Regions from separate parts of the Homo sapiens genome. Here region 1 is linked to region 2. Evidence: fine-mapped expression QTL. A gene starts in region 2. The other region holds a variant in brackets. All regions are shown on one strand. Distances are between the middles of the regions. Region 1 overlaps MLKL (mixed lineage kinase domain like pseudokinase). Region 2 holds the start of MLKL (mixed lineage kinase domain like pseudokinase).

Region 1 (14,459 bases), 21 kb before region 2:
AGGAAAAAGAAGAGAGATAGAAAGACAAAAAGACAACAAGATAATGCTGCTGTGGTGGTGCCTGTTGTCCTAGCTACTCTAGAGACTAAGGCAGGAGGATCACTTGAGCCCAGGAGTTTGAGGCTATAGAGTGCCATGATCCTACCTGTCAATAGCCACTGCACTCTGGCCTGGGCAACATAATGAGACCTCCTCTCTAAAAAAAAAAAAAAAAAAAACCATAAATAGGCAGACAGATAAATAAAGGAAGGAAATAGGCAGGAAGAAAGTAATCTGCCTTTCCAACCCACTTTGGATAAAACAATGCCCTCTGGAAGCCCTTACACTATTGACATTGGGGCTGCCAGAGAGTTCTTTGTGTGGTGGGCTGTCCTATGCGTTGTAGGATGTTGAATAGCATTCTTTTTTTTTTTTTTTTGAGATGGAGTCTTGCCCTGTTGTCCAGGCTGGAGCGCAGTGGCGTGATCCTGACTCTGCAACCTCTGCCTCCTGGGTTCAAGTGATTCTCTTGCCTCAGCCTCCTGAGTAGCTGGGACTACAGGCATGCGCCAATATACTTGGCTAATTTTTGGGTTTTTAATAGAGACGAGGTTTCATCATGCTGGCCAGGGTGGTCTCAAACTCCTGAGCTCAGGCGATCCACCCACCTTGGCCTCGCAAAATGTTGGGATTATAGGCATGAGCCACCGCGCCTGGCCAACATTTTTTTTTTTGAGACGGAGTCTTGTTTTGTCACCCAGGCTGGAGTGCAGTGGTACAGTGGCGTGATCTTGGCTCACTGCAACCTCCCAGTTTCAAGAGATTCTCATGCCTCAGCCTCCTGAGTAGCTGGGATTACAGGCATGTACCACCATGGCTAGCTAATTTTAGTAGAGATGAGGTTTCACCATGTTGGCCAGGCTGGTCTCAAACTCCTAACCTCAAGTGATCTGCCCATCTCAGCCTCCCAAAGGGCTAGAATTACAGGCATGAGCAACCGCACCCAGCCATCATCCTTGGCCTTTATTCACTAGATGACAGTAGCACACTCCATCCTACCTCCCTGGCCTTATGACAAACAACAATGTTTCAGACATCACTAAATGTTCCCCGGATAAAACCACCCCTCGTTGTAAACTACTGCCTTGGAGCTGGTGAAAAGGAAATCTTTCACAAGTGTGAAATAATGATGGGGCTCACGCTCTTTACACCAGAAAGAACCCTACCATCCACAGAGGGCCGCACAGAGGGATCATGGGCCCGGCACTCATCAATGATCTCCCGCAGCTCTGAAGGGCAGTCTTCACCCAGTGGCTCCTGCTGCCGCTTCACAGCCACCAGCTTGCGGATCTTCTCAGAATTACAGCCTGGAAATGATAGCATGAGAGCCTCAAAAAATTGCTCCGCTACTCGTACATCTCTCTGGATGCTGATGGCTGGCATCAGAACTAGGGACTCTGAGTATGGAAACAACAAGAACTTCCAACGATTCCACTGACCAGCCCAGGCAGTTCCCACATTAAACAACAAATTGCCAGGGGCAGCACTGATGGGGAATTTCTGGTCTACTGGAAGGGGACCCAACCTCACCACTGGCTGAGCCAGTCTTCACATTCTTCACCTTGAAACGGGATATCTCCAGTGGCGATTTCCCAGAGGACGATTCCAAAGCTAAAAGAAAACCAAGAAACTGAACAACCATAACTAGTCTCCCCTTTCCCCTGTCCCTCTAGCCACTGCCAGAAAACTCAGTGAATTTTTTGATTACTACCCAATTTCATTCAACAGAGTTGAGTTTAGGTGGTCCTTGGAGGAGTTTGATTTGGGTTTTCCTATTATGCACATCTGAGTTAGAATCTGTACCAGAACGTGAGTGTACCTGTATATTTCAGACTTTACATCATATTGATAAAATACATCTTCCAGTTCCTGAGGTGAGAGATATGCTGTAGATTTGACTCTGTCTGTCTTTTCTCTCGTAGTTCCCAAACTCATGGAAGTCTGTGTTTTCCTCAACTCAAATCCTGCAAGCTAGATAGAGAGGCAACTTAGAAAGAAACAAGCAAGATCTTGGGTAGAGGAGTAAAGGGCAGGGATTGTTGCTACACACAATTGCCAGGGAATTGTCTTTTACCTTAGGGATTTATTTCCTGTCGTGACTTCTGTCTGTGTGGCTACTTTATTGGTTAACATTATGGGTTCAACTTATCACAGTGCAGTGACCAAGAGAAACACAAAGAGATTTCTTCTGTATAAAATGGGGCGATGACAGGGGGGATTACTTGAGATAATGGTTATAAAGCACCAGTAAGACCTGCTAAGTTGTAGTTGTTGCCAGTATGACTATGTTAAAATGTAGGGGTTTCTCAGTTGAGGACTGAACTCCACTCAGTGAGAGTGGAGAGGGGTCATAGAGCCACTGCCTGGCTCGCCTTTTCCCAAAGAAGCAGATGGAAAAATGGCATGGGGGCATCCCCTCTGTGCTATCTGACTTTATGGGGGGTCAGCCTGATCCTTTGGCTTTGGCGTGACGAGTGTGAGTCATCCCCCCAGGCCTGCGCGGTCACCTGGTGTTCTTAAAGAAACTGTAGCACAATCATGACAGCATATGTTCTTGTCCCATGCACACCTGCCATTGACACCATTGGTGTGCTGAAGGCTGCCAGCCCCAAACTCAGCCAGGTACCCAAATCTAGGGGCAATGTGAGAAAAGGGATAAGGCACTTAGATGGCTCATCCCCCTTTCATTCATTCATTCATTCATTTGCTCACACGTTTCCTGAGCACTGACATTCTCTTACATCTAGCGCCGTATGGGATACCAGGGATGAAAGGTGGAATAGCGCATCTTATAGTCAGGCTGCATGAAGAGCGTGAGAGTAGTAGAAACAGTGTTTTGGGAGTACTTATATCACCATCGCAGAGGGGGAAAGGCATCTGAAAGGCAAAAAAGGCCTGTCTGCTATTATTTGAGGGCTGTCTCTGACACTCGTAGGACTGGAAGAAAGAAAACCGTCTATGGATGACAAAGAAAACTGCTAAAATTCTTTTAGCATTTGGGAATTGTGGACACTGAGTTCACAAAATCTTTTCCTCTTCTGTATGAAAATCTGACTTCCAGTGAACTTCTTAGCTCTGTTCCCCTGGAAATCTGATACAGGTAGACTGTCACCTATGGCTCTTAGTAACATTGCTGATGATGAAAATAAAAATGACTGCTGATTGTTAGATTGCTTCTGGGCAGGATCAAGGGGGTAACAGGACTACACAGTAAACAGCTGATGGGAATGCTTTGTAGCAAATTTTTCTTATTTATTTATTTATTTATTTATTTTTTGAGACGGAGTCTCACTCTGTCGCCCAGGTTGGAGAGCAGTGGTGCAATCTCAGCTCACTGCAAGTTCTGCCTCCTGGGTTCATGCCATTCTCCTGCCTCAGCCTCCGGAGTAGCTGGGACTACAGGCACCTGCCACCACGCCTGGCCAATTTTTTGTATTGTTTAGTAGAGACAGGGTTTCACTGTGTTAGCCAGGATGGTCTCGATCTCCTAACCTCATGATCCACCTGCCTTGGCCTCCCAAAGTGCTGGGATTACAGGTGTGAGCCACCGCGCCCAGCCTCTTTTTTATTTTTTGAGACAGGGTCTCATTCTGTTGCCCAGGCTAGGGTATACAGTGGCGTAAACATAGCTCCCTGCAGCCTTGACCTCCTGGGCTCTAGGCATCCTCCTCCTGCCTCACTCTCCTGAGTAGCTGGAATTACAGGTGTGCACCACCATGACTGGCTGATTTTTAAATTTTTTGAAGAGGGGGAGGTCTCACTGTGTTGCCAAGGCTGGTCTTGAACTCTTGGGCTCAAAGTGATCCTCCTGCCTTCCCTTCCAAAGTGCGGGGATTACAGGCATAAGCCACCATGCCTGGCCATGTAGCAGCTCTTTTCTTTTCTTTTTTCTTTTTTTTTGGAGATGGAGTTTTGCTGTTGTTGCCCGGGCTGGAGTTCAACCACGCGATCTCGGCTCACTGCAAACCTCTGCCTCCCGGGTTCAAGTGATTCTCCTGCCTCAGCCTCCTTAGGAGCTGGGACTAGAGGCGTGCGCCACCACACCCGGCTAATTTTTTGTATTTTTAGTAGAGACAGTGTTTCACTATGTTGGCCAGGCTAGTCTTGAACTCCTGACCTCAGGTGATCCACCCGCCTTAGCCTCCCTAAGTGTTGGGATTACAGGCGTGAGCCACCATACCCAGATGTGGCAGCTCTTAAAACAGCAACTCACATGTCACTTGCAGAAACACTGGAAGGCATGCCTGCAGAGTTGTTACCAGAGATGCTGACTCCTGCAGGTCATGGGCTTCTAAGCCTGGATGACCCACACCCACCTAATGGGAGCCTCTTTCTCCAGCACCTGTGGCTCTGACAAAGAGAGTATCTCCTGGATGACTGCGAGGACTCACCCTGGAGGGAAAGGTTTGGCGCTGCTGACATCCTTCTAAGTAACTGAATGACAAGTGTGGCCTAGACCTGTCCTGTGAGTCTGAGTCCTTAAACCTAACAAGATCCCCCATTGTATGTTGTAGGGACATAGAAGTGGTGTCCAGGCATCTAAGGGGAAATGACTTGTAGCCCATCCCTGCTAAATGGGCAGTGAGGGAAGGCAGTCATCAGAACAGGCGGCATAGATGGAGACTGTTGTGTGGTGGGCACACAGAAAGTTGAAGTTAGTTCTGAAACTAAAAAACTAAAATTGAACTCAGTTCTAAAACCAAGGCAAGGCCGGGCATGGTGGCTCATGCCTGTAATCCCAGCACTTTGGGAGGCCCAGGTGGGCGGATCACTTGAGGCCAGGAGTTCAAAACCAGCTGGCCAACATGGTGAAACCCTGTCTCTACTAAAAATGCAAAAATTAGTCAGGAGTGGTGGTGCATGGCTGTAATCCCAGCTACTTGGGAGGCTGAGGCAGGAGAATCGCTTGAACCTGGGAAGCAGAGGTTGCAGCGGGGCGATCTCGCTCACTGCCCTCCAGCTTGGGTGACAGAAAGAGACTCTGTCTCTAAATAAATAAATAAATAAACTAAGACAAGAATCAAGCCTTTCTGAGACACTCGTGCCCCTCTCATAGCACCAGTCATGCAGGTTTGACCCAAAGCGCCCCCGCAAGGCACACTCACCTTCACTTGGTAGCCTTGAGTTACCAGGAAGTTTGAGCTTCTGATTTTTCCGTGGAGTTCAGGTGCTTCTGAATGGTGTAGCCTGACACAGCCAAAGGCGGGGAGCATAAGTACCTTTGCCCAAACTTTCTTTGGGGGACTGACAATCATAACTGGGCTGATGAGGCTGGACAGTACCATGGGTGCCTGTCCACAGTTACACAGGAAAAACTGGGATGTAGAGGCAAGGTTTGAGAATCACAAGCCGTGAGTATAGA[A/G]CAGAGATGAGATTCATAGCACAAGGGGGCATGACAGCCCTTATGAAGTGCATGCAATCGGGCATCAGGGGTGCCTTTAGGTAGAGAAGGACAACGTTGCCTCTGTGTTGCTTTGCCTGGGAAGTGCTGGGCAGATCCGAGAGCTCAGAGGCATGGCTGGGTGGCTGGACCTTGCTGGGACCCTTCAGGTCAAAGCAGAATGTGAAGCTGGGGTCCCGCTGACTTCCAGACAAGGGCTTTGGTTTCACAAAGCCCCTGCGTCCCAGGTTGGGTTGCACTCATGGTGTCTGCCTGAGCTCAGATTCTCCCAGAAGCAGATCATGAGCCATGATTTGGGCACGAGGGATTTGTATCAAGAAGGTGCTCCCTTGACCAGGCATGGTGGCTTGCGCTTATAATCCCCACACTTTGGGAGACCAAGGTGGATGGATCACTTGAGGTCAGGAGTTTGAGACCAGCTTCGCCAACATGGTGAAACATCATCTCTACTATTAATAAAAATACAAAAAAATAGCTGGGCGTGGTGGCATGTGCCTGTAATTCCAGCTATTCAGGATGCTAAAGCATGAGAATCACTTGCACCCAGGAGGTGGAGTTTGCAGTGAGCCGAGATCACGCCACTATACTCCAGCCTGGGCAGCAAAATGAGGCTCTGTCTCAAAAAAAAAATAACTCCAAAAGTCCCCCAAACAAACAAAAAGAAGGTGCTCCCAGGAGAAATGGTTGAGGGAGTACAGGAAGTAGGATGGCGAAGGAGAAGAAATCAAGCAAGAGGTTGATTTCAGGTGAAATCCCAGGCTCAGGTGGTCTCGCGGAGACCTGTGGGCACAATTACACCTCAGAGTGTGTCCCACAGGAAGCAAAGGAACTGGACTTTTATACTTACACCAGTCAGTGGTTATGGACTGTGTTGGGGAGGGCAGGGACAGATGGATATAAAACTCGTGGGCACTTTCAGCTGTCTATAAGGGTGAAAGGGCTCCAGTGCCCACAGGCAATCCTCTGAAGATTGCAGCTGTGAACTTTCAGCAGCAAAGCATGCCGAGAGGGGGATGGGTAAATAGAGCTGGTAAAAAGGATCAGAGGTCATTTGGAGGGGATATTAACAGTGTCCCCTACAACATCCAAAAATACTTCTCCTTAAACTCACTAGTTTAGGGAGTTGAGAAGAAACAAACTTAATTTCAAATTAATAGCTAAGACAGTGTTTCCAAAAGTGTGGGATAAGGTGGTATGCAAGATTATATAAAGGGAAAATTACTCTCCTTTCAGTTTGCTCCAGTCTTTCTGATTACATCAAGAAGAAAGTCTGCGTTTGGTATTTTTTTTTTGTTTTTTTGTTTTTGTTTTTTGTTTTTTGTTTTTTTATGAGACGGAGTCTCGCTCTGTCGCCCAGGCTGGAGTGCAGTGGCACAATCTCAGCTCACTGCAACCTCTGCCTCCCAGGTTCAAGCGATTCTCCTGCCTCAGCCTTACGAGTAGCTGGGACTATAGGTGCGTGCCATCACGCCCAGCTAATTTTTGTATTTTTAGGAGAGACGAGGTTTCACCGTGTTGGGCAGGATGCTCTTGATCTCTTTACCTTGTGATCTGTCCGCCTCAGCCTCCCAAAGTGCTGGGATTATAGACGTGAGCTACTGCGCCCAGCCTTGGTGTTGGGTATCCTTAACTCTGCCAATATCTCCAATATCTCCATTGTACAAAGAGAATGTGGGTTGGATCACAGAGCTTCTGGCAGGCAGCCTCATCCAGCCAGAATTTAATTACATTGTTTTGGTTTCATTTGTGGTTACCTATTTTTGGCAAGTGACACTGGTTTTCAATTTATGGTAGTAAGAGAAAGTGTCCTTTTTAAAAGCTTTATTTCAATTATTATTATTATTTTTTGAGATGGAGTCTTGCTTTGTCGCCCAGCCTGGAGTGCAGTGGTACGATATCAGTTCATTGAAACCTCCGCCTCCTGGGTTCAAGTGATTCTTGTCCCTCAAGCCTCCTGAGTAGCTGAGATTACAGGCCTGTGGCACCATGCTGGGCTAATTTCTGTATTTTTAGTAAAAACAGGGTTTCGCCACGTTGGCCAGGCTAGTCTCCAACTCCTGACCTCAAGTGATCCACCTGCCTTGGCCTCTCAAAGTGCTGGGATTATGGGCGTGAGCCACTGGGCCAGGCCTTTATTCCGATTTTTAAAAAGTGAGTCAATGTAATGAAAAATGTTAAGTAAATAACACTGGTAGTAGTATAGTTAAAACCCTGCAGATGGTTTGTGAGTGACTAACCTTTGGGGACCCTTGGGACTAAGAATCCATAGATTCTGCAGGTGAGAATAGGTAGAGTTGCCAAATAAAACACAAGACACGGCCGGGCGCGGTGGCTCACACTTGTAATCCCAGCACTTTGGGAGGCCGAGACAGGTGGATCATGAGGTCAGGAGATCGATACCATCCTGGCTAACATGGTGAAACCCCGTCTCTAATAAAAATACAAAAAAATTAGCCAGGCGTAGTGGCAGGCACCTGTAGTCCCAGCTACTCGGGAGGCTAAGGCAGGAGAATGGCATGAACCTGGGAGGCAGAGGTTGCAGTGAGCCGAGATCGTGCCACTGCACTCCAGCCTGGGCAACAGAGGGAGACTCCATCTCAAGAAGAAAAAAAAAGAAAAGAAAAAAACACAAGACACTCCATTAAATTTGAGTTTCTGATAAGCAATGAATATATAGATTCACGTACACGCATATATATATGTACAAGCATGCCCACAAATTGTATAGGACATAGTTGTACTAAAAATAAATGTTTATCCAAAATTTGAGACTGGGTGCAGTGACTCATGCCTGTAATCCCAGCACTTTGGAAAGCTGAGGCAGGAGGATTGCTTGAGCCCAGTAGTTCGAGACCAGCCTAGGCAGCATGGCAAAACCTTATCTCTACAAAAAATATATATAAAAAAAAAACTGGCTGAGTGTAGTGGTGTGCGCCTGTAGTCCCAGCTTCTCAGGAGGCTAAGGTAGGAGAATCCCTTCAGCTCGGGAGGTTAAGTGATCTGTGATCATATCAGTGCACTCCAGTCTGGGCAAGAGAGTGAGACTCTGTCTCAAAACATAAAATAAAATTTGATATTTTTGATATTTAGTATAAGTATATACCATGCAATGTTTAGGATGCACTTATACTAAAAAATGATTCATTACTTTCCTAACGTTCAAATTTAACTGGATATGTTCATTTTTATGCTAAATCTGTCCACTCCAAAATTAGGGCTCATCCAACTCTATAAGTGCAGTGTGGACATCAATTTCAACCGTCAGTTCTGGGAGCTGGTGTTCCCTGGGTTAAGCCTCTTTCCTCCCTCCTATCTGTAATCAGAGTAAATAGTAAAACAGTGTATGGGAGGGAGACTGTCTGGGGCGTCTGGCCTGTTCTCTCACCATCTCTGGGAGTATCAGGAGTGTGGACAGACCCATCCAACCCTTAGTGGCGCCTTTTCACCCCGTCTTACCGGTATAGGCCTCGGGCTGCCCCCAGGACTAGGACCATGCGCTTGCCAAGTGTGAGGTCTTTTTCCCTATCCAACAGCTCCCTCAGGGTCCCGAGTTCACAGTACTCCATGACAATGGAGAATTGAGGCGGAGTCACTGGTGGAAAGGAGCCAGACACTATGAGGACCCGCCCTACTTGAAGCTTCCCATGTCTGCAGCCCACCTCTCCCAGCCTCGGTACAGATACAGACTTGGCTCTGCTGAGTCCCATTTCTCCCCCAATCCTCAGCCCACAGTTTTGGTCCCCGGCCTCCTTGAATGGACCAAATATGCCCAGAATTCCCATCCTCTTCTCCATAATACTTGGCTTGTCGTAATTCTACCTTAAAAAAAAAATTGGCTGGGTGCGTTGGCTCATGCCTGTAATCCCAGCACTTTGGGAGACCAATGTGGGTGGAACACAAGGTCAGGAGTTTGAGATCAGCCTGGCCTACGTGGTGAAACCATGTCTCTACTAAAAATACAAAAATTAGCTGGGTGTGGTGGCAGGTGCGTGTAATCCCATCTACTTGGGAGGCTGAGGCAGGAGAATCACTTGAAGCTGCGTGGCAGAGATTGCACCACTGCACTCCAGCCTGGGCAACAGAGTGACACTACATCTCAAAAAAAAAAAAAAAATGTTCTGCCAGGTGTGGTGACTCACGCCTGTAATCCTGGCTCTTTGGGAGGCTGAGGCTGGTGGATCACTTGAGGCCAGGAGTTCGAGACCAGCCTGGCCAACATGATGAAACCTCGTCTCTATGAAAAATGCAAAAATTAGCCAGGTGTGGTGGGACATGCCTGTAGTCCCAGCTATTAGGGAGGCTGAGGCAGGAGAATTGCTTGAACCTCGGAGGTGGAAGCTGCAGTAAGCATATTGTACCACCGCACTCCAGCCTGAGTGACAGAATGAGACTCTGTCTCAAAAAAAAAAAAAAAAAATTCTTTTTCTTTTTCTTTTTTAACTTCTATCTCCCTTTCTTGGTATAATTCAAAATTTTCTTGAGCAGTTATTTGGCGAATGTCTTCCTCACTCAACTGGATTCCCAAGAAGGCAGGAAATGTGTCTGTCTTGTTCACATGGGTGCTCACAAGAAGCTTCGTACATCTGTGTGGGAGGAATGAGTAGGGCACACATGGCAGGGGCGGGTGAGGACTCAGACAAGAAGTCGACTTCCCCATTCATGGGCCTGAGCTGCAAAACTGACATGTGACTGAGCCAGGCACCTCAGCGGTCCCCAAGGAGAACAAACGTTGCTGAACATTTGTCTTTATTTTTTATTTTTTAATTTTTTTGAGACAGAGTCTAGCTCTGTCACCCAGGCTGGAGTGCAGTGGCATGATATTGGCTCACTGCAACCTCCGCCTCCCAGGTTCACGCAATTCTCCTGCCTCAGCCTCCCGAGTAGCTGGGACTACAGGCACCCACCACCACGCCCAGTTAATTTTTATATTTTTAGTAGAGACAGGGTTTTATCATGTTGGCCAGGCTGGTCTCAAACTCCTGACCTCAGGTGATCCACCTACCTTGGCCTCCCAAAGTGCTGGGATTACAGATGTGAGCCACCGTGCCTGGCCTACGTTTCCCTTTAGATTGGGATTCCACACTCTGAAATCAAGTTGGCCTGAGGCTGTGGAGCAACTTCCAAAGGGGATAAGACAGGAGTTGCTCTGTCCAATCTCTAGGCAAGACGGCAGCAAAACATGACCAGCAGGAGGGGTCATTCCATGAGAGAAAATGCAGTCACATTGGGAAAAAAAGAAAAAAAAAAAAAAAAAAAGAGCCTGTCACATAAGGCTCTTGGTAGAGGGGTAAAGTAATGGTTTTTTTTTTTGTTTGTTTGAGACAGAGTCTCACTCTGTCACCCAGGCTGGAGTGCAGTGGCATGATCTCGGCTCACTGCAAACTCCGCCTCCCAGGTTCAAGCAATTCTCCTGCCTCAGCCTCCCGAGTAGCTGGGACTAGAGGCATGTGCCACCACATCCGGCTAATTTTTTGTATTTTTAGTAGAGACGGGGTTTCATCATGTTGGCCAGGACGGTCTCAAGCTCCTGACCTTGTGATCCACCCACCTCAGCCTCCCTAAGTGCTGCTGAGCCACAGCGCCTGGCCAGGTAAGTTAATTTTGCTTTTAGATTTGTTCTATACTAATGATGACCAAGGGTGTTTTCCTTCTTTGGGTCAGACAGCTTTATAATTTATTTTTATTTTTGAGACGGAGTCTTGCTCTGTTGCCCAGGCTGGAATGCAATGGTGCACCCTCAGCTCACTGCAACCTCCGCTTCCCAGGTTCAAGCAATTCTCCCACCTCAGCCTCCCGAGTAGCTGGGACTACAGATGCCTGCCACCAGACCCAGCTAATTTTTGTATTTTAGTAGAGATGGGGTTTCACCATGTTGGCTGGGCTGGTCTTGAACTCCTGACCTCAAGTGACCTGCCTGTCTCGGCTTACCAAAGTGCTGGGATTACAGGTGTGAGCCACTGCACCTGGCAGCTTTATAATGTTTTAGAGCAACAAGATGCACCCCTCTTCCAGGCTGGCATCTAAACATGCACCCCCTTATTTCCCAGTGGGCTGAAAGGAGAAGATGTGGCCATGTTAGTGCAAACCACCCCTCAGCCTTCAGCCCTGCCCTCCTGAAAGAAGATGAGAACATGCATCTTGGGATGAAAAAAAAAAAATTAACATTGATAATAATCACACTTTGTGGATTCCACCCTTTGTGATGTTCTTTAAAAAAATGCAACACATTAAAACACAGGAGGTGTGTTCTAGGCCATCCAAAGCTTGACCAATCCTAGAAGCATTCCTTACCTGTTTCATCAATGCAAATCCCAAATATACGCAGGATGTTGGGAGATTCGAATTTCTTCATGGTTTTGATCTCCTTATTGAAAGTCTGCCTCACTATTCTATAAGGATTAAAGAGAGAAATCAGGATTTCAGAACTGGAAGGTTCCTTAGAGAACATTCAGTGTGGTGACCCTCTGTGTATGTGGGGGCGGGGGTATCAGCATCTGGGGTGAGAACTGGTGCCAGGATGAACTCAGCTACTGATAACAACATGTGGAACCCCTCAGGTGCCTGTGGCAGCACAATTAGTCCCTCGGGGTCTGTCAGATATTAATGGGACTTGCTAATATCTTTTCAGTAGTTCAAATAGTCTGATAGAATTGTATTTTTATGACCTACAGGGCTTTACTAGGCAAACTAAAAAGTCAAGTATTTGTTACTGTTTTTAGGCTGTAACCTGTTGTTTAGCATATACTCTGACAGATTGTGGTGTGTGTCTTTTTTTTTTTTTTGGAGACAGGGTCTTGCTTTGTCACCCAGGCTGGAGTGCAGTGGTGCGATCTTGGCTCACTGCAGCCTCCACCTCCCAGGTTGAAGCAATTCTCATGCCTCAGCCACCTGAGTAGCTGGAACTACAGGTGCGTGCCACCATGCTTGGCTAATTTTTGTATTTTTTTTGCAGAGACATGATTTCACCATGTTGGCCAGGCTGGTGTCAAACTCCTGGCCTCAAGTGATTTGCCTGCCTACGCCTCCCAAAGTGCTGGGATTTCAGGTGTGAGTCACCGTGCCCAGCCCGTGGTGTGTGTCTTTGATGAATAAAAATAATGATACTAGGCCGGGCGTGGTGGCTCATGCCTGTAATCCCAGCACTTTGGGAGGCCGAGGCAGGTGGATCACAAGGTCAGGAGTTCGAGACAATCCTGCCGAACATGGTGAAACCCCGTCTCTACTAAAAATACAAAAAAATTAGCTGGGTGTGGTGGCGGGCGCCTGTAGCCCCAGCTACTTGGGAGGCTGAGGCAGGAGAACGGCGTGAACCCAGGAGGTGGAGCTTGCAGTGAGCCGAGATCACACCATTGCACTCCAGCCTGGGTGACAGAACGAGACTACGTCTCCACACACACACAAAAAAAGATATTTATTAAGTGAAATCTTATAACCAAAATTCCTTCCAAAACGTGGGCCTTAAAAAATGTAGGCAGGTAAATTATTAAAGAGGATCACTGGAACCACCAACTCAATCCAATCTGTTCATTCACTCTGAGTCTTAGACTCAAAGGGCAAAGGAGGCTTGTCCAAGGTCTGTCAGAGAATCAGGGCAGGTTCAGAGCCTATAAAAATCAATTGTATTTCTATCTGCTAGCAATTAACAATCAAAAGATTAAATTAAAAATTTTCATTTCCAATAGCATAAAGAGAATAAAATACTTAGGAATAAATTTACAAAAGAAGTGCAAGTCTCACCCTGAAAATTTTGTACCTAAATTGTTGAAAGAATTTTGTTTTGTTTTGTTTGTTTGTTTTTTGAGATGGAGCCTCACTTTTGTCGCCCAGGCTGAGTGCAATGGCATGATCTCGGCTCACTGCAACCTCTGCCTCCTGGGTTCAAGCAATTCTCCTGCCTCAGCCTCCCGAATAGCTGGGATTACAGGCGCTTGCTACCATGCCCGGCTAATTTTTGTATTTATAGTAGAGGCGGGGTTTCACCATGTTGGCCAGACTAGTCTCGAACTCCTGACCTCAGGTGATCCTCCTGCCTCAGCCTCCCAAAGTGCTGGGATTATAGGCATAACTCACTGCACCCAGCAAGAAATTTTAAAAGATCTAAATAAATGGAAACACGTCCCATGTTCTTGAATAGGAAGACTTTATACCATTAAGATGGTAACATTTTCCAAATTGACCTACAGGTTCAATGCAATCCTTACCCGATTTGTAGTTGGCTTAAAAAAAAAAAGCAAAAACAAAAACTGAAATTGACAAGATATTCCTAAAATTTGTGTGGAAATGAAAGGAATTCAGGATAGCCAAGACAGTCTTGCAAAAGAAGAACAAAGCTGGAAGACTTATACTTCTCAATTTCAAAACTTATCACAAGGTTACAGTAATGAAGACAGTATAGTGCTATCATAAGACTAGACAAACAGATCAATGGAATAGAATTGGGGGTCCGGAAATAAACTCATACATATAAAGCCAGTTGATTTTTCACAGTTTTTTTTTTTGGAACTTGCTCTGTCACCCAGGCTGGAGTGCAGCGATGCAATTTCTGCTCACTGCAATACCTGCCTTCTGGGTTCAAGAGATTCTACTGCCTCAGCCTCCCAAGTAGCTGGGACTACAGGTGCCTGCCACCACGCCTGGCTATTTTTTTTTGCGATGGAGTCTTGCTCTGTCAAGCAGGCTGGAGTGCAGTGGCGTGATCTCAGGTCACTGCAAGCTCTGCCTCTCAGGTTCACACCATTCTCCTGCCTCAGCCTCCTGAGTAGCTGGGACTACAGGTGCCCGCCACCACACCTGGCTAATTTTTTGTATTTTTAGTAGAGACGGGTTTCACCATATTAGCCAGGATGGTCTTGATCTCCTGACCTGGTGATCTGCCCGCCCTGGCCTCCCAAAGTGCTAGGATTACAGTCGTGAGCCACTGCGCCCAGCCAACGCCCGGCTAATTTTTGTATTTTTAGTGGAGATGGGGTTTCGCCATGTTGGCTAGGCTGGTCTCAAACTCCTGACCTCAAGTGATCCA
Region 2 (16,996 bases):
TAACTCATGCATAGTTGGTAGAAGTAATATCTGTGCAACTTCTATCAAAATTTGAAATGCCTACAGTCTTTGACCTAGTGATTTTACCTAGCAATTCCACTTCTGGGAATTTCTCATAAAGATATCTTGAAATAGGCCAGGCGTGGTGGCTCATGCCTGTAATCCTAGCACTTTGGGAGGCCGAGTCAGGCAGATCACTTGAGGTCAGGAGTTTGAGACCAGCCTGGCCAAACTGGTCAGTAGAGATAGTGAAACCCCGTCTCTACTAAAAATACAAAAATTAGCCGGGTGTGGTGGCACATGCCTGTAATCCCAACTACTGGGGTGACTGAGGCACAAGAATCACTTGAACCCAGGAAGCAGAGGTTGCAGTGAGCCAAGATCGTGTCACTGCACTCCAGCAAGACTCTGTCTCAAAAAAAAAAAAAAAGAAAAGAAAAAAGAAAGAAAGAAAGAAAGAAAAGAAAAAAAAAGTTCTGGTGATGGATGGTCGCGATGGTTTCAGAACCATGTGAATATACTTGATGCCACTGAACTGGCATCTAAAAATGGTTGAAATGGTAAATTTTTTTTTTTTTTTTTTTGAGACGGAATCTCTCTGTCGCCCAGGCTGGAGTGCAGTGGAGCGATCTCAGCTCACTGCAGGCTCCGCCCCGCGGGGTTCACGCCATTCCCCCGCCTCAGCCTCCCGAGTAGCTGGGACTACAGGCGCCCACCACCTCGCCCGTCTAATTTTTTGTATTTTCAGTAGAGACGGGGTTTCACCGTGTTAGCCAGGATGGTCTCAATCTCCTGACCTCATGATCCGCCCGCCTCGGCCTCCCAAAGTGCTGGGATTACAGGCGTGAGCCACCCCGCCTGGCCGAAATGGTAAATTTTATGTTATGTATATTTTATCACAAAAAATGGGAAAAAATGATGGGTGTATGTATTGGGTTGTTTTTGAATTTGTGTGCTGCTAGTATGATCATAAAACAAAACAAAACAGTAGGGTAGATGCCAAGTAGGAAAACAAGCTATATAATTCAATGGATATTTACATGGGAGGATATTTAAGATTATTTAATGAGAAAAGAAGAAATAGAACAATGTGCTTGGCATGATGCTGACTGTGTGACAACAACAATAAAATATATATACTTAAATCTCCAGAAGGGTATTCAAGAAACTGGTAGATTGTGTGATTGTATCTCAGATTTTGATAAAGGTTGCACAAATATCCTACCAACAATGGATGAGATTATCATTTTGTCTATATGGTTTCCATCAGACTTCCCCAGTTTTAGTACTGAAGGTCTCATGTCCTCAGAAAGGGAAACAGGGGCCCCTGAGGTCAAGGAGGGAGATTTACTTCTCACGCCGGCCCCCTCCATCCTTTGTTTTTGGAGACAGGATCTCGCTCTGTCGCCCAGGCTGCAGTGCAATGGAGAAATCGTGGCTCACTGCAGCCTCGACCTCCTAGGTGCCTGTAATCCCAGCACTTTGGGAGGCTGAGGCAAGAGGATCACTTGAGGCCAGGAGTTCTACACCAGCCTGGGCAACATAGTGAGACTCTCTAACTACAAAAAATAAAATAAAAATTAGCTGGGCATTGTGGCGTGCACACCTATAGTACCAGCCACTCGGGAGCCTGAGGTGGGAGGATCACTTGAACCTGAGGCTGCAGTGAGCTATGATTGTGCCGCCGTCCTCTAGCCCGTGCAACAGAGACCCTGTCTCAAAAAATGAAACAAAACAAAACAAAACTCCTCTTCAACGCTGGCTTGCCCAAATTTCACCAGCCCCCACCATATATCTGGGCCAAAGGATGTTAGGAGTTTTGTTTGTTTGTTTGTTTGTTTGTTTGTTTTCTGAGGCAGAGTCTCGCTCTGTCGCCCAGGCTGGAGTGCAGTGGCGCGATCTCAGCTCACTGCAAGCTCTGCCTCCCGGGTTCACGCTGTTCTCCTGCCTCAGCCTCCCGAGTAGCTGGGACTACAGGCGCCCGCCACCATGCCCGGCTAATTTTTTGTATTTTTAGTAGAGACGGGGTTTCACCGTGTTAGCCAGGATGGTCTCAGTCTCCTGACCTAGTGATCAGCCCGCCTCGGCCTCCCAAAGTGCTGGGATTACAGGCGAGAGCCATCGCGCCCAGCTAGGAGTTTTGAGGTACAAGTATATTACAACTGCTCAAACTTCATCATTGCTGCTCCTTTGGTAAATTAAAGTGAGACTAAAATGCATTCAACTGCACTCCCACTCCCCACCAAAGACCCAGCTTGCCTCTTCTTAGCATCTGGAAAGCTCGCCTGTCTTCGTCTGCATCCTGCTGATCTTCCTGTGCCCAGGACGCTCCTTGGCTTATGGGTGAAACAGGCATGCGTTGCTCAACCTGAAGTAACAGCGAGAGCTCCTTCCAGACATCACTCAGCTTCCTGTTCACGTCCTTGAAGAGTATTTTGTCCTGGCTTGCTGTTAGAAACCTGCAGATATTGGATCTATTGCTGAACTTTTCTATCTCCCCATTAGCCTCCTCCAGGGCAGCCTTGAAGCGGTTCATGGCTGTGGTTAACTTCTCAGAGGGCACGCTCCTCTTTCCTTGGTCCTGGAGCATCTCCAGAGGCTTGATCAGGCCGAGGACGCGGTGGCCCAGGCGCCGGCACTGTTTCTTGCAGTATTTCATCTCTTCACACCGTTTGTGGATGACCTGGCCAAGGGTGATAATATGCTTCAAATTTTCCATGCCTGGAAGAAATGAATGGAATTTGGTGAAATCCCCAAATCTCCTGCATATTCACTACTTGGCTAAGAAAGAATCAAAGCGGTCTGTGACTTAAATGCCTGAGGAGGTCTCCCCAGCATTTTCATGCAAGATAGAGATGGTTTGCTACCCACCAAAATCTGTTCTGCCCTTGCACAATAATAGAGTTGTAGCTGGGAAGAGCTGGTCCAGCCGGAACTACATCTCCCAGCCTTCCTTGCAACTTGATGTGGCCATGTGACTAGTTCTCACCAATGGGGTTTAAGTGCATGTGACCTGCTCTACTTCGGACTGGGGCAGCTGTGCCGCCTCCTCACACTCTCCCTTGGTTGGCTGGATGCGTGGGGTGAAGCGGCCCTGGGGTGGTGGAGCCCCAAGAAGAGTCCTGAGTCCCTGGATAATCACTTGGAGGAGAGCTGCCCACAGACCTGGAACGTCTGTCATGGACTGTTAAGTGATCAAGGAATAAACTTGTATTGCATGTAAACCGTTAATATTTTCAGGTTGATATGTTTATATCAGTTTCGTCTATTACAGATATATCCTGCTAAAGCATAGAGGTTTCAGGGGCCAGGCGGGTAATTCAAATGAGTGAAGTGAGCTGAGGTAGTCTTTACTGCCACAGATAAATATGTTTCTTTCTGTTTTTTTTTAAAACATGTGGACTATCTTTCATTTTTCCTACAAAAAATTGTTCAGTTTCTTCCTACAGTCCTTTAAGAAAAATGCAGCTGGGCGAGGTGGCTCCCACCGATAATCCCAGCACTTTGAGAGGAAGAGACAGGAGGATTGCTTGAGGCCAGGAGTTCCAGACCAGTCTGGACAGCAAAGTGAGACCCTTTCTCTACAAAAATAAAAAAAATAAAATAAAATAAAATGAAATAAATAAAATATAAAATTGGCTGGGCGCGGTGACTCACGCCAGTAATCCCAGCACTTTGGAAGGCTGAGGTGGGCGGATCACTTGAGGTCAGGAGTTGGAAACCAGCCTGGCCAACATGGTGAAACCCCGTCTCTACTAAAAATACAAAAATTAGCTAGGTGTGGTGGTGCATGCCTGTAATCCCAGCTACTCGGAGGGCTAAGCCAGGAGAATTGCTTGAACCCAGGGGGTGGAGGTTGCACCATCTCAAAAAAATGTAATACATTACATATATATAGTAATATATATAATATTACATATATATAGTAATATATATGTAATATTACATATATAGTAATACATATATATAATATTACATATATATAGTAATACATATATATAATATTACATATATATTATATATATAAGTTAGCCTGGTGTGGTGGCACACACCCGTAGTCTCAGCTACCTGGGAAGTTGAGATAGGAGGATTCCTTGAGTCCAGGAGGTTGAGGCTGCAGTGCCAGCTTCCTACTCTTAACCTCTCTCTCTTCTCTGAACATGAGTGAGGAAGCACAGAGCCCTGATCCTAAAGCTTGGAATGAGGCTAACCTGAGCATGGTAGAATGGAAAGGGAGAAAGAATCTGAGTCTTTGATGACAACATTGAGCCACTGGTTTGAACTGACATGAAGTGTACCCCATCCCCTAACTGCAGGTTTCATGAACCAATAACCTCCCTGATTGTTTAAGGCAGTTTGAATCATGTTTGCTTTATTTGCAACTGAAGCCGACTGCGTTCAGCAATGAATGATGATAATAATTATGACACTAGATCTCTCAATTCACCTACTACATCCTAAGTGCTTTGGAACCCCCAGCTCTCCATGGTTATTTTCATTTAACAGATGAAGATACCATCTGGGCACAGTAGTTCATACCCGTAATCCCAACATTTTGGGAGGTAGAGGTGGGAAGATTGCTTGAGGCCAGGAGTTCCATTCTGGGCAACACAGCGAGACCCATCTCTACTAAAAATACAAAAATTAGCTGGGACCTGTAGTCCCAGCTACTCAGGAGGCTGAGGCGGGAGAATCGCTTGAGCCTGGGAGGTTGAGGCTGCAGTGAGCTATGATGACACCACTGCACTCCAGCCAGGGAAACAGAGAGACCCTGTCTCGAAAAAACAAACAGGTGAAAAGTGAAGATGCTGCGGTTCAGGGAGGTTGCATTCAAATAATCACAAGGCCATGGAACCAGTTTTCAAAGTATTTAAAATAAAGTTAGGGTAGGGTGTCATGACTCAAACCTGTAATCCCAGCACTTTGTGAGGCTGAGGCCAGGGGATCGTATGAGCCTGAGTTCGAGACCAGCCTGGGCAACATGGTGAAACCCTGTCTCTACAAAAAAATACAAAAATTTGCTGGATGTGGTGGTGCTTGCCTGTAGTCCCAGCTACTCTGGAGCCTGAGGAGGGAGAATTGATTGAGGCTGGGAGGTCGAGGCTGCAGTGAGCCATGATTGTGCCACTGACTCCATTCCAGCATGGGCAACAGAATGAGACAGTGTCTCAAAAACACCACCACCACCACCACTAACAAACGACAACAAAAAACAAAGTTAGTTTTTTTTTTTTTAACAGCTCAGTGAAATAGGTAGGTTAAGTATTATCGCCAGTTTATGGATTAATTAGCAGCTTGGAGAAAATAATTGGCCTGGAGCCCAAGTATGGCTTTAAAACATGAGTAAGGCACTGGCAGAAGTGAAACTAAATAAATGAGCAATCGATATAGTTGTGTTTTTGTTGCCTGAGAGTTACAGTGATTGGGCAAGGGAGGTAACAGTTATTAGGGCACTCCTAAAAAGACTAGTGGATCTCAGACTACCCAGCTATTCCCACGTGCTAAGCAGATATCTTCAAGGCCATTTCTTGGGAATTGTGAGGGCAAAAGGTTTTACACTTTCTCTGTTGCACCAGAAACAGAAGCAAATGTGGCAATGTTGTTCAAGGAATCTTGCAAATTGTAGCTTCCTAGCTCTAAGCTCCAGTTATCTTACCAGCAGCCTCATCAGAAAGCCATATCTCAGCACTGAACTAATCAGAAAGGAAAATGGGGAAAATATCCCACCCATAGAACTGACAAACAATTTCAAATAATAAATTATACAGTGGTGGCATGGTATGAAGAAAATTGCAGCGGTCACATTGGCTCATGCCTGTAATCTCAGCGCTTTGGAAGGCCGAGGCAGGTGGATCACCTGAGGTCGGGAGTTTGAGATCGCCCGGCCAACATGGTGAAACCCCATCTCTACTAAAAATACTAAAATTAGCCAAGCATGGTAGCAGGCGCCTGTAATCCCAGCTACTCGGGAGGCTGAGGCAGGAGAATTGCTTGAACCCGGGAGGTGGAGGTTGCACTGAGCCGAGATCACACCACTGTGCTCCAACCTGGGCAACAGAGCAAAACTCCGTCTCAAAAACAAAAACAAAAACAAAAAAAAAGAAAGAAAGAAAATTGCACAAAACAAAGCTTGAAGAAAGGAGGAAAGAGAAGTGTTATATTTCTGGCTGGGAAGACTAAAACAGACCAACCCAGCAATCCTTCCCAAATTTAAATCCAATTTAATGCAGTTCCAATAAAACATCTACTGACATATTTTGGCATTAAATCAAAATGATCCTAAAGTTCATTTGAAATGGGAAATTAGTAGGGATAACCAGGATTTTAAAAAATAAAGAAAAGGGGACTTGCCTGTATGAAATTAAAATATATTAAAAACTGCAAAATATTGGGAAAAAGCACCCTACAATAACTTAAATTGTTTAAGGTCTTATTAAGTATATGATCTACAAGGGAAGAAAGGGAATATACATATATACACACTTAGACTGGGCAATTTGAATTTCTAGGAACTTATGATGTAGAAAAGCTTGTGTTTGTAGATAGATGGCTACCGAGATGTTCACTGCAGTGCTATTTATAATATGTAAAACAAACAGCTAAGAATATGTTCAGGCCAGCTGCAGTGGCTCACACCTGTAATCCCAGCACTTTGGGAGGGTGAGGTAGGAGGATCACCTGAGCCCAGGAGTTTGAGACCAGCCTGGGTGACAAAGCGAGACCCTGGCTCTACCAAAAAATACAAAAAAAATTTAATTGGGTGTGGTGATGTGCACCTTGTAGTCCTAGCTACTTGGGAGGATCTGGTTGGAGGATCACTTGAGCCCATGAGTTCGGAGGCTGCAGTGAGCTATGATTGTGCCACTGCGCTCCAGCCTGGGCAACAGAGGAAGACTCCATCTCTCAAAATAAATAAATAAAAAGAAAAAGGGGATTATGTTCATATGTTACGATGAGAAAACAGGTTACTAATTTTAAAAGTGAAAAATCTTTAAATGGTAATAACAATGCAAATTCACCTCTTCCCTCCAAAAAATAAAAAATAAAAATAAAATAAAATAAGTAAAGGTTATCAGGCATTTCCCTCTTCTCTCTCTCTCACTCTGTCTCTCTCTCACGCCTTCAGCCTGCAAACCTGAAGACTTCCTTTTTCTGAGAAGACATCAGGTAACTTGTTCCCGTGCCCCTGCCCTCCACGACCCCCACTGCTACTGGGCGTCTCGCTTTGGCGGAAGGTAGTGCGAGATCCGAGCAGGCAGCTCCACCATCAGAGCTGAGGAAATGAAACCAACTCGGTCCTGAGTTCCAGGAACTCGGACCGGGCCACCCTCACCCCTGGTTCTTCCCATCACCGTCCAGGAATTCGGCTGCAGCCCCTCGGCCCCGCCGCCTCCTGGGAAGACCCCATGCTCACCTTCGCGCCTCCCGAGGGGTGTGCGTCCAATCTGTCCCGTGCACAGTTCCAAAAAGCTCGCTCTTCCACCTTCTTTCCCACGACCGCCTCCTGCCCAGGCGAGAAGTTTGCAAACGCGAGGCCCGCGGGAGTTCCCCTGCGCCCCCTTTCCTGGTGCCCGCACCCTGCACTCTGCTGACTGTACCGGACGCCACACGTGGCTGGCGGCGACAAGGCGCCCCGATCCCTACCTGAGGGAAACCCCGGCCACTGCAGCTGCACTTGAGCAGGGTCCCTCCACTCAGCCACTTGGATGGCTGTTTCTGTCCAGTGCCCTCCGGAGGCCACTGCCTCAGGTCTGTGATGCCTGCAGAGAATGCTGCGACACTTCCCCCTCCGACGTGGCTCCAGCTGCCAACCACCAGGCTCACGGTGCCCTGGCTCCCTGGAGCCGCTTTCTAGGCAGCTCGGAGCCACGGCCCCTCCCTTCCTTCCTCCTGTCCTTTCCACACTCTTCCTGCCTTCCCCAAAGTCACTGGGTAACTACGCTGTACACGTCAGTACCAAGCCTTCTTTAGGGGCTGGGGATTCAGAATAGAATAAGGTCCCAGCAACTATTATAACCAGGACACAGTATGAGAAGGACTGGAAGTTTAGAGAAAAACTGAAAGTTGGAGAGAAGCTTCTGGTGTTTGCTTCTCTGTGCTGGATAATATTGGCGGGGTGGGGAGGGTACGAGGGAAGAGACACCAAAGTGGGAAAAAAGTCACTTCCTCTTCTAAGGTCATTGCAGAACATCCTGTTACAGTGTGAGTCAGGTTTTCTTAAGATTAACTACATCTTCAGCTAGAAAGTCTAAGTAGTGTTATGCATTTACTCAACAGACTATTTGCCTCTAAAAGAACAGAACTGGGAGCTGGGTGTGGTGGCTCATGCCTGTAATTCCAGCACTTTGGGAGGCGGAGGTGGCCAGATCACCTGAGGTCAGGAGTTCAAGACCATCCTGGCCAACATGGGGAAACCCTGTCTCTACTAAAAATACAAAAATTAGCCAGGCGTGGTGGTGCATGCCTGTAATCCCAGCTACTCGGGAGCCTGAGAGGGGAGAATCGCTTGAAGCCGGCCTTGGAGATTCATTTCTTCGCCTTGCTATTGTTCTTCGTCTCCTGCATCATCAGTTTTCTTCCTGTCTTAGGTGAAGAGATTGAGGTGAGGCAGGAGAATAGGGTCTGCAGGCAGGGAACATAAAGCTGATTCACGCTGACTTCTTAGAACTAAATAAAATGGACACATTTCAGCTATGACAGGAAATATTTTCTTCATTTACATATGGCGTTCACTGAGTAAGTGACTGAGCAACTTCACTTCATCTTCTTCATTTACATAGGGTGTACACCAATTAACCAATGGGAGCCTCTAGAGGGTATTTAAATCCCAGAAAATTCTGTAACGGAGTTCTTGAGCCCCTATGCTCACGCTGGCTCCCACCCTGTGGAGTGTACCTTTGTTTTCAATACATCTCTGCTTTTGTTGCCTCATTCTTTCCTTGCTTTGTGCATTTTGCCCATTTCTTTGTTCAAGATGCCAAGAACCTGGACACCTTCAACAAGTAACACAGGTGCCTGTGATTTATTGAAGGAAGACTCTTAGGAGAGTGGTGGGTATGATAGGGCAGAGGAAGAAAAAGTGAAACAAGTATGTAGTCAGTGGAGGCTCCATGGGGAGGTCTGGAATGTGAAGGTCTGGAACAAGAGGCAGCCTCCTTTCTGCCCAGGGCAATTCTTCTGGACGAGGGGGAAGCTGTGTGAGTGTTTAGCTGTCAACACTCATAGCAGCTGCAGGATGGGTATACTGATCTGCTATAAACAAAATCATACAATGTATAACCTTTTGGAAGTTTTTTTCTTTTCTTTTCTTTTTTTTTTTTTTTACTGTCCCACCATCAATGTACAAGACATTCAGTTTCTCTGCATCCTCAGCAGCATTTTATTTTGTCCCTGCCTGAATTTTTAGCTATTCTAACAGGTGAATAGTGATATATCATCATGGTTTTTTGTTTTGTTTTGTTTTGAGATAGAGTCTTACTCTGTTGCCCAGGCTGGAGTGCAGTGGCGCCATCTCAGCTCACTGCAACCTCCACCTCCTGGGTTCAAGCGATTCTCCAGCCTCAGCCTCCCAAGTAGCTGGGACTACAGGCGTGCACCACCACACCTGTCTATTTTTTGTATTTTTAGTAGAGACAGCGTTTCGCCATATTGGCCAGACTGGTCTCGAACTCCTGACCTCAGGTGATCCACCCACCTTGGCCTCCCAAAGTGCTGGGATTATAGGCATGAGCCACTGCGCCTGGTCTCATCATGGTTTTAATTGGCATTTCTTTAGTGCCTGGTGATGATGGACATGTTTTCATGTGCTTGTTTGCCATCTGTATAGCCTCATTGGTGAAATGTCTGTCCATGTCTTTTGCCCATTTTTAGTTGAATTCTTTTTAAAAAACTTGAGTTTTGAGAGTTTAAATATTCTAGATATTAATCCTTTGCCAGATAGGTGGTGTTCAAATGGTGGTGGAGTAACTGAACAAAAAAATGAACTTCACCTAAACCTCATATTCTATGCAAAAATTGCCTGAATGGATCAGAGATTTAAATGTAAAATGTAAAACAAGGAACCTTTTAGAAGAAAGCAGAGAGAACTGTGCAGAATGAAAGGACATTTCCTGTTGAGAAAATGTAAATGTTTGAAAAAAGTTTAGGGCCGGTCGCAGTGGCTCACGCCTGTAATCCCAGCACTTTGGGAGGCCGAGGTGGGCGGATCACGAGGTCAGGAGATTAAGACCATCCTGGCTAACACGGTGAAACCCCATCTCTACTAAAAATACAAAAAAAAATTAGCCGGATGTGGTGGCGGGTGCCTGTAGTCCCAGCTACTCGGGAGGCTGAGGCAGGAGAACGATGTGAACCCAGGAGGCGGAGCTTGCAGTGAGCCGAGATCGCGCCATTGCACACCAGCCTGGGTGGCAGAGTGAGACTCCGTCTCAAAAAAAAAAAAAAAAAAAAAGAAAAGAAAAAAGTTTAAATGAGCCCTTTAAAATGTTTTTATTTTTAGTAGAGACAGAGGTCTCCCTGTGTTGCTGAGGCTGATCTTGAACTTCTGAACTCAAGCAATCCTCATGCCTTGGCCCCCCAAAGTGTTGGGATTACGAGCTTGAGCCACCTTGCCTGGCCAAATGAGTCTATTTAATAAGAATGGCTATTCATACTAAAAATTGTACAATATTAAAAATAATTCCCAGTTTCTTTGGCTTTATCTTGGAGTTGCCATTTGAAAAAAAAAATCACAAACATTTGAAAAAAAAAAAAACTTGTAGAACATGTAGAAGAAAATCTTCAGAACCTAAGGCTAGGCGAAGAATTCTTAGGCATAACATCAAAGCCATTATTATTCTTTCTTCTTTTCTTTTTCTTTCTTTTTTTTTTTTTTGAGACGGAGTCTCCCTCTGTTGCCAGGCTGTAGTGCAGTGCTGTGATCTCAGCTTACTGCAACCTCCACCTCCAGGGCTCAAACAATTCTCCTGCCTCAGCCTTCCAACAAGCTGGGACTACAGGCATGTGCCACCACGCTTGGCTAGTTTTTTTTTGTATTTTTAGTAGAGATGGAGTTTTAGCATGTTGGCCAGGCTGGTCTCGAACTCCTGACCTCAAGTGATCTACCTGCCTTGGCCTCCCAAAGTGCTGGGATTACAGGCATGAGCCACTGCGCCTGGCCCCAAAGCCATTATTCTTAAAATTAAAAAATGATAAATCAGACTTGATCAAAATTTGAAACTTGCTCTGCAAAGACCCTTTTAAGGGGATGAAAAGACAAGTTACAGATTGGGAGAAAATGTTTGCAAATCACATGTCAAATAATATGCTTCTAAATAATTCATGAGTCAAAAAGGACATTTTCTCAAGAGAAATGAAGATATATTTTGCTCAATAAATTTAAACAGATCAAAATCATACAAAGCATCTTCTTTGACCACAATAGAATAAAACTAGAAATAAATAACAGAAAGAGAACTGGAATATTCACAAATATGCAGAAATTAAACAACATACACTTAAACAACTAGTGGGACAAAGAAGAAATCACAAGGGAAATTAGAAAATACTTCGAGACAAATAAAAGATACAACATGCCAAAACTTAGGGGATGCAGCAAAAACAGTTCTCAAAGGATAATTTATAGCTACATGGCTACAAAAGAGAAAAAGAGAGAGGCCTGGTGCCGTGGCTCATGCCTGTAATCCCAGCACTTTGGGAGGCTGAGGCGGGTGGATCACGAGGTTAGGAGTTCAAGACCAGCCTGGCCAACACGGTGAAACCCCGTCTGCTAAAAATACAAAAAAAAAAAAAAAAAAAATAGCCCGACGTGATGGCGGGCACCTGTAATCTCAGCTACTCAGGCGGCTGAGGCAGGAGAATCGCTTGAACCCAGGAGGCAGAGGTTGTAGTGAGCCAAGATCATGCCACTGCACTCCAGCCTGGGTGACAGAGTGAGACTCCATCTCAAAAAAAAAAAAAAAAAAAAGAGAGAGAGAGATCTCAAATCATTATCCCAACTCTACCCTTTAAGGAACTAGTAAAAGAAGAACAAATCAAACCCAAAACTAGCAGAAGGGAGGAAATTACCAAGATCAGAAAAGAGAAAATCAATGAAACTGAAAGTTAGTTCTTTGAAAAGATTAATAAAATTGACGAATCCTTAGCTAAACTAAAACAAAAAGAAGATGAAAATAACTTAAATCAGAAATGAAAGTGGGGACCTTACTATCTACCTTACAGAAATAAAAAGGACTATGAGAGAAAACTATGAACAATTGTTTGCCAACCAATTAGGTAACCTAGAGGATATGGACAAATTCCCAGGCACGCAAAATTTACCTAATTCACTCAATGAGAAATAGAAAATCTGAACATACCTACAACAAGTAAAGAAATTGAATTAATAATCAAAACTCCTCCAAACAAGTAAAGTCCAGGCCTAATAGTTTTACAGTAAATTCTACCAAACATTTTTTTCTTTCTTGGAGACTTTTATTTATTGTATTTATTATATTTTTTTATTATATTTTAAGTCCTGGGGTACAGTGCAGAATGTGCAGTTTTGTTACATAGGTATACACGTGCCATGCTGGTTTCCTGCACCCATCAACCCGCCACCTACATTAGGTATTTCTCCTAATGCTATCCCTTCCCTAGCCCCCACCACCTGACAGGCCCTGGTGGGTGATGTTCACTTCCCTGCGTCAATGTGTTCTCATTGTTCAACTCCCACTTATGAGTGAGAACATGCGGTGTTTTCTACCAAACATTTAAAAATAAATTACCACCAATCATTCTCAAACTCTTCCAAAAATAGGAGAGGAGGAAACACTTCCTAACTCATTTTAAGAAACCAGCATTACTCTGATACTAAAGCCAGATAAAGACACAAGAAACGAAAACTACAAGCCAATATACCTTAAGAATCCAGAGGCTAGCTGGGCGCAGTGGCTCATGCCTATAATTCTAGCACTTTGGGAGGCTGAGGCAGTTAGATCACTTGAGCCCAGGAATACGAGACCAGCCTGGCCAACATGGTGAAACCTAGTCTCTACCAAAAATACAAAAAAATAGCCAGGCATGGTGGTGTGCGCCTGTAGTCCCGGCTACTCGGGAGGCTGAGGTGGGAGGATCACTTGAGCCCATGCCACCACACTCCAGCCTGGGCAACAGAGCAAGACCCTGTCTAAAATAATAATAATAATAATAAAAAGCAATACAGAAAGTTACATGGATGTAAAAACCTTAACCAATTTAAAGCTCAGTTTTCCTGAGTAACTGAAACCTAATAAAGACAACATAGGAAATTGTCTTGGTAAAACATAAATTCTTTGTTTTTTTTTTTTAAGGCCAGTTACCAAAAAGATTAAGAAAAATTTCCTGTACTGTGATTGCTTCTCTTTATAGGAAGGCTGTTTAGATAACCTGAAAGTTACACCTGATGAAAAGAGTAATAAAATTTAATCAGACATAAGAAGAATGTGTCCAAGGTTATGAGGGTACACTGTATTATAGAAGAAAGTAGGCCAGGCATGGTGGCTCATGCCTGTAATCCCAGCACTTTGGGAGGCTGAGGCAGGAGGATAACGAGGTCAGGAGATTGAGACCATCCCAGCCAACATGGTGAAATCCCGTCTCTACTAAAATACAAAAAAATTAGCTGGGCATGGTGGTGCACGCCTGTAGTCCCAGCTACTTGGGAGGCTGAGACAGGGGAATCGCTTGAAACCGGAAGGCGGAGGTTGCGGTCAGCCGAGATCACACCGCTGCACTCCAGCCTGGGCGACAGAGCAAGACTCCATCTCAAAAAAAAAAAAAAAAAGGAAGAAAGTAAACAAACAAGAAAACTTGTACCTTGATAAGGGGAATAGGTGATTCTTAGCAACAGGATGGGAAGTTTTCTGGCAAAAATTCAGACACATCAAGAGTAGCCAAGAGTACAGAATCAAGGTATAGTGAAAGAAAGCATTGTTCTTCCAGGCCTTTAAGATAAACATTTCAGTGTCAGGCTATAAGGGCAGAGTTAGACTGGAGAAAAAAAAGTTATAAGAGGTGATGAAAAGGTTGAAGGAAAGAGTCACTATCCCAGGCAAGGTCTTGCTCTATTGCCCAGGCTGGAGTGCCGTGGTGTGATCATAGCTCACTGCAACCTCAAACTCCTGGGCTCAAGTGATGCTCTTGCCTCAGCCTCCGAAGTAGCTAACACTACAGGTGGTGTACCACTACACCTGGCTAATCTTTAAATTTTTTCATAGAGAAAGGGTCTTGCTATGTCGTCCAGGCTGGTCTTGAACTGGCTTCAAGTAGTCCTCCTGGCTCCCATTTCATAATTTTTAAAAACATGTTTTTCCATAATAAAATTTTTGGATGTATTAATAGACCCAATAAATGTAATCTTTTACAAAATGTAAGCATCAAAGAACACACTTGTATTTATATTCAGTAATTTTGTTCATTAAAAAATAATATTTTTCATATGGTTCATAAAAAATAATGTGTTCTTGTATTTCATTAAAAAATACTATTTTTTAATGAAACAAATTGACCCAGACATTTAACGAATATCTATTATTTTGTTTAACCTAACATAACTTCAAAATTTCAAATTACATGAAAAGTTCATTTATAGACATTTATCCTATTACATTTACCTAAGTTATTTATGTTTTTTTTTTCAAGACCTCACTCTGTCATCCAGGTTGAAGCGCATTGCCGCAACCTCGGCTTACTGCAACCTCCGCCTTCCTGGTTCAAGCGATTCTCCCGCCTCAGCCTCCCGAGTAGCTGGGACTACAGGCATGCACCACCATGCCTGGCTACTTTTTATATTTTTAGTAGAGATGGGGTTTCACCATATTGGCCAGGCTGGTCTCGAACTCCTGACCTCGCGATCTGCCCGCCTTGGCCTCCCCAAGTGCTGGGATTACAGGCGTAAGCCACCGTGCCTGGCTAGTCTTTGGAATTTTACCTGCGGGATTTTTTTGAGGCCTGAATTGAAGATACATTTCTCCATAAAACAATTTTAATTGCTTCCTCTGAGAGCCTTGTGGCTCCACCAACCGGGCTATTTTACATCACAATTTTGGCTTGAGGTGTTTCAGATCACCCGGTTTGCACGAATTCAGGCTTCAGACCTCAGTGAGGACTCTCCTTGTGGCTCTGCATCCTCAGCCTTTACCCACTCCACGCAGGAGATTTCACTTGCAGTGCCCTGGGGAGGTGGGTTTCCTCTTGGTTCACTCTTACATTGAGGATATGACCCTTTGGGGTCTGTAGCAAACACATCTGTTCCTCCTCATCATGCCCCCTCTGTCTGCCTCTGGTCTTAGCCTCAATTGCGGTGGAAGGTTCTGTGTGAACTCTGTCTCAGCTTTCATTTCAGCCACAGTTCCAGTGGCTAGCTCCTGCCTAACAAGCTCATACTCAACTTGTACTGATAGAATCCCACTACAAATGCATACCTCTATGTTCCTGCTTTTGTCCAAGGACTTTTGCCAAAGCCAGCATCTGCTTGGCTTGCATGGCTGGGAAGTCCCTAAGTGAGGGTGAATCGATGTCACTGAAGACAGTCCTCACCCATAGGAGTGGAAGCTGGTGATAAATGCTCCAGCCTCCTGTCCTATTGGACAATTCCGATACATTTTCTCTGTGCTTCTCAAGATGCCCTTACAGAATCTGTAGGAGAACCTCACATACTCAACCTTACACTGCTCCTCCAACTTCTCCCTTTCTAGACCTCCCTGGTTCTCGCTCTTTATTTCTGCAATCACCTCCCAAATAGACTGCCTGCATCCATGTGCTTGTTTTAGGTTTTGATTTTTGTTTGTTTGTTTGTTTTTTTGAGACAGAATTTTGTTCTTGCTGCCCAGGCTGGAGTGCAGTGGTGCGATCTCAGCTCACCACAACCTCCGCCTCCTGGGTTCAAGAGATTCTCCTGCCTCAGCCTCCCAAGTAGCTGGGATTACAGGCATCGGCCACCACGCCCGGCTAATTTTGTATTTTTAGTAGAGACGGGGTTTCTCCATGTTGGTCAGGCTGGTCTCAAACTCCCAACCTCAGGAGATCTGCCTGTCTCGGCCTCCCAAAGTGCTAGGATTACAGGCAAGAGCCACCACGCCTGTAATCCCATTTTTAGGGAACCTAAAAGAAGATATAACCCCACTGCTTTTGCCAGAACAAAAATTTTTTTCTTCTTTTAAATTTCTTCCTCTCCGCTATAGGTGTCTGAGATGGGACAGACACTTATGAGATGAGAGTCCTGGAATTTTCCAAATTTTACATTCATCTTGTGGCATTCTTTATAGATAACATTTATTCATTGGAGCCTGGTGTGGTCTTTGGGCAAAACACCTAACTGTAAAGAAAACTCCAGTTGAAATTTTGCAACCATTATGGCTTTTTTGAAAGTTAGAACTATTCATATACATATTTCCAACTTCCTCTCAAAAATGGCAGATGAGTCAAGAATGTAAGTCAACAGAACGGGTAAATTGGGAAAGGCTAGAATTTTGAAATCACAGATACCTGCTTCCAAAACAGTCCCCGCGAGGGCAGTAATAATGGAGTAGGGCTGCATGCTGCCACCAGAGGGCAGCAGAGGCCGGGAACAGGTGGAGAGGCAAGGCCCAGTTATTCTTACCGTCTGAGATCTGATGCAGACAAGACAAGCATTTATTGGGCTCTGTTACAAGTTGGTCATTGTGCTGGGCACAATAAAAAATCACACAAAGTTCAAAGGCAGAGATCAGAGGTCAGAGCCAACGGGGGAGTGGAACAGAGCAGAATTAAGAGGGCTGTTCTTCAGATCAACTAAGGAACTCCCAAAGACAGCATGTCTGGAAATACAAACACAATACCAGAAATAAATATGATGGCTATTTTTTGGTCTGTTCTTGACCATGGAAGCTGGGTCATCCCTGGAGAATCAGGCGAGGCAAATTTGTAGGGCCACTGAGGGTCAGTCAATCTGCAGATTTACTTTATGCTGATCAGAATTTAAATGGCCCTCTTGGCTGGG

Evidence for each region. PIP is the estimated chance that this variant, and not a neighbour inherited with it, causes the effect.
Region 1: its variant is fine-mapped to the expression of MLKL in whole blood (INTERVAL, PIP 0.91).

Annotation. Positions count from the first base shown.
Region 1 is chr16:74,673,755-74,688,213 of GRCh38, forward strand. It overlaps MLKL (mixed lineage kinase domain like pseudokinase), which reads right to left. Exons shown (of 11, transcript NM_152649.4): 5 at 11,732-11,829; 6 at 8,897-9,032; 7 at 5,145-5,226; 8 at 1,859-2,010; 9 at 1,601-1,650; 10 at 1,206-1,346. Among named protein-coding and RNA genes, the nearest start is that of RFWD3, 14 kb to the left of the region's middle. RefSeq lists a silencer at 8,313-8,511. The variant A/G (reference allele first, on the strand shown) is at 5,402.
Region 2 is chr16:74,693,039-74,710,034 of GRCh38, forward strand. It overlaps MLKL (mixed lineage kinase domain like pseudokinase), which reads right to left and starts at 7,824. Exons shown (of 11, transcript NM_152649.4): 1 at 7,415-7,824; 2 at 2,260-2,721. The coding sequence starts at 2,719. RefSeq lists a silencer at 1,257-1,426 and an enhancer at 7,278-7,727.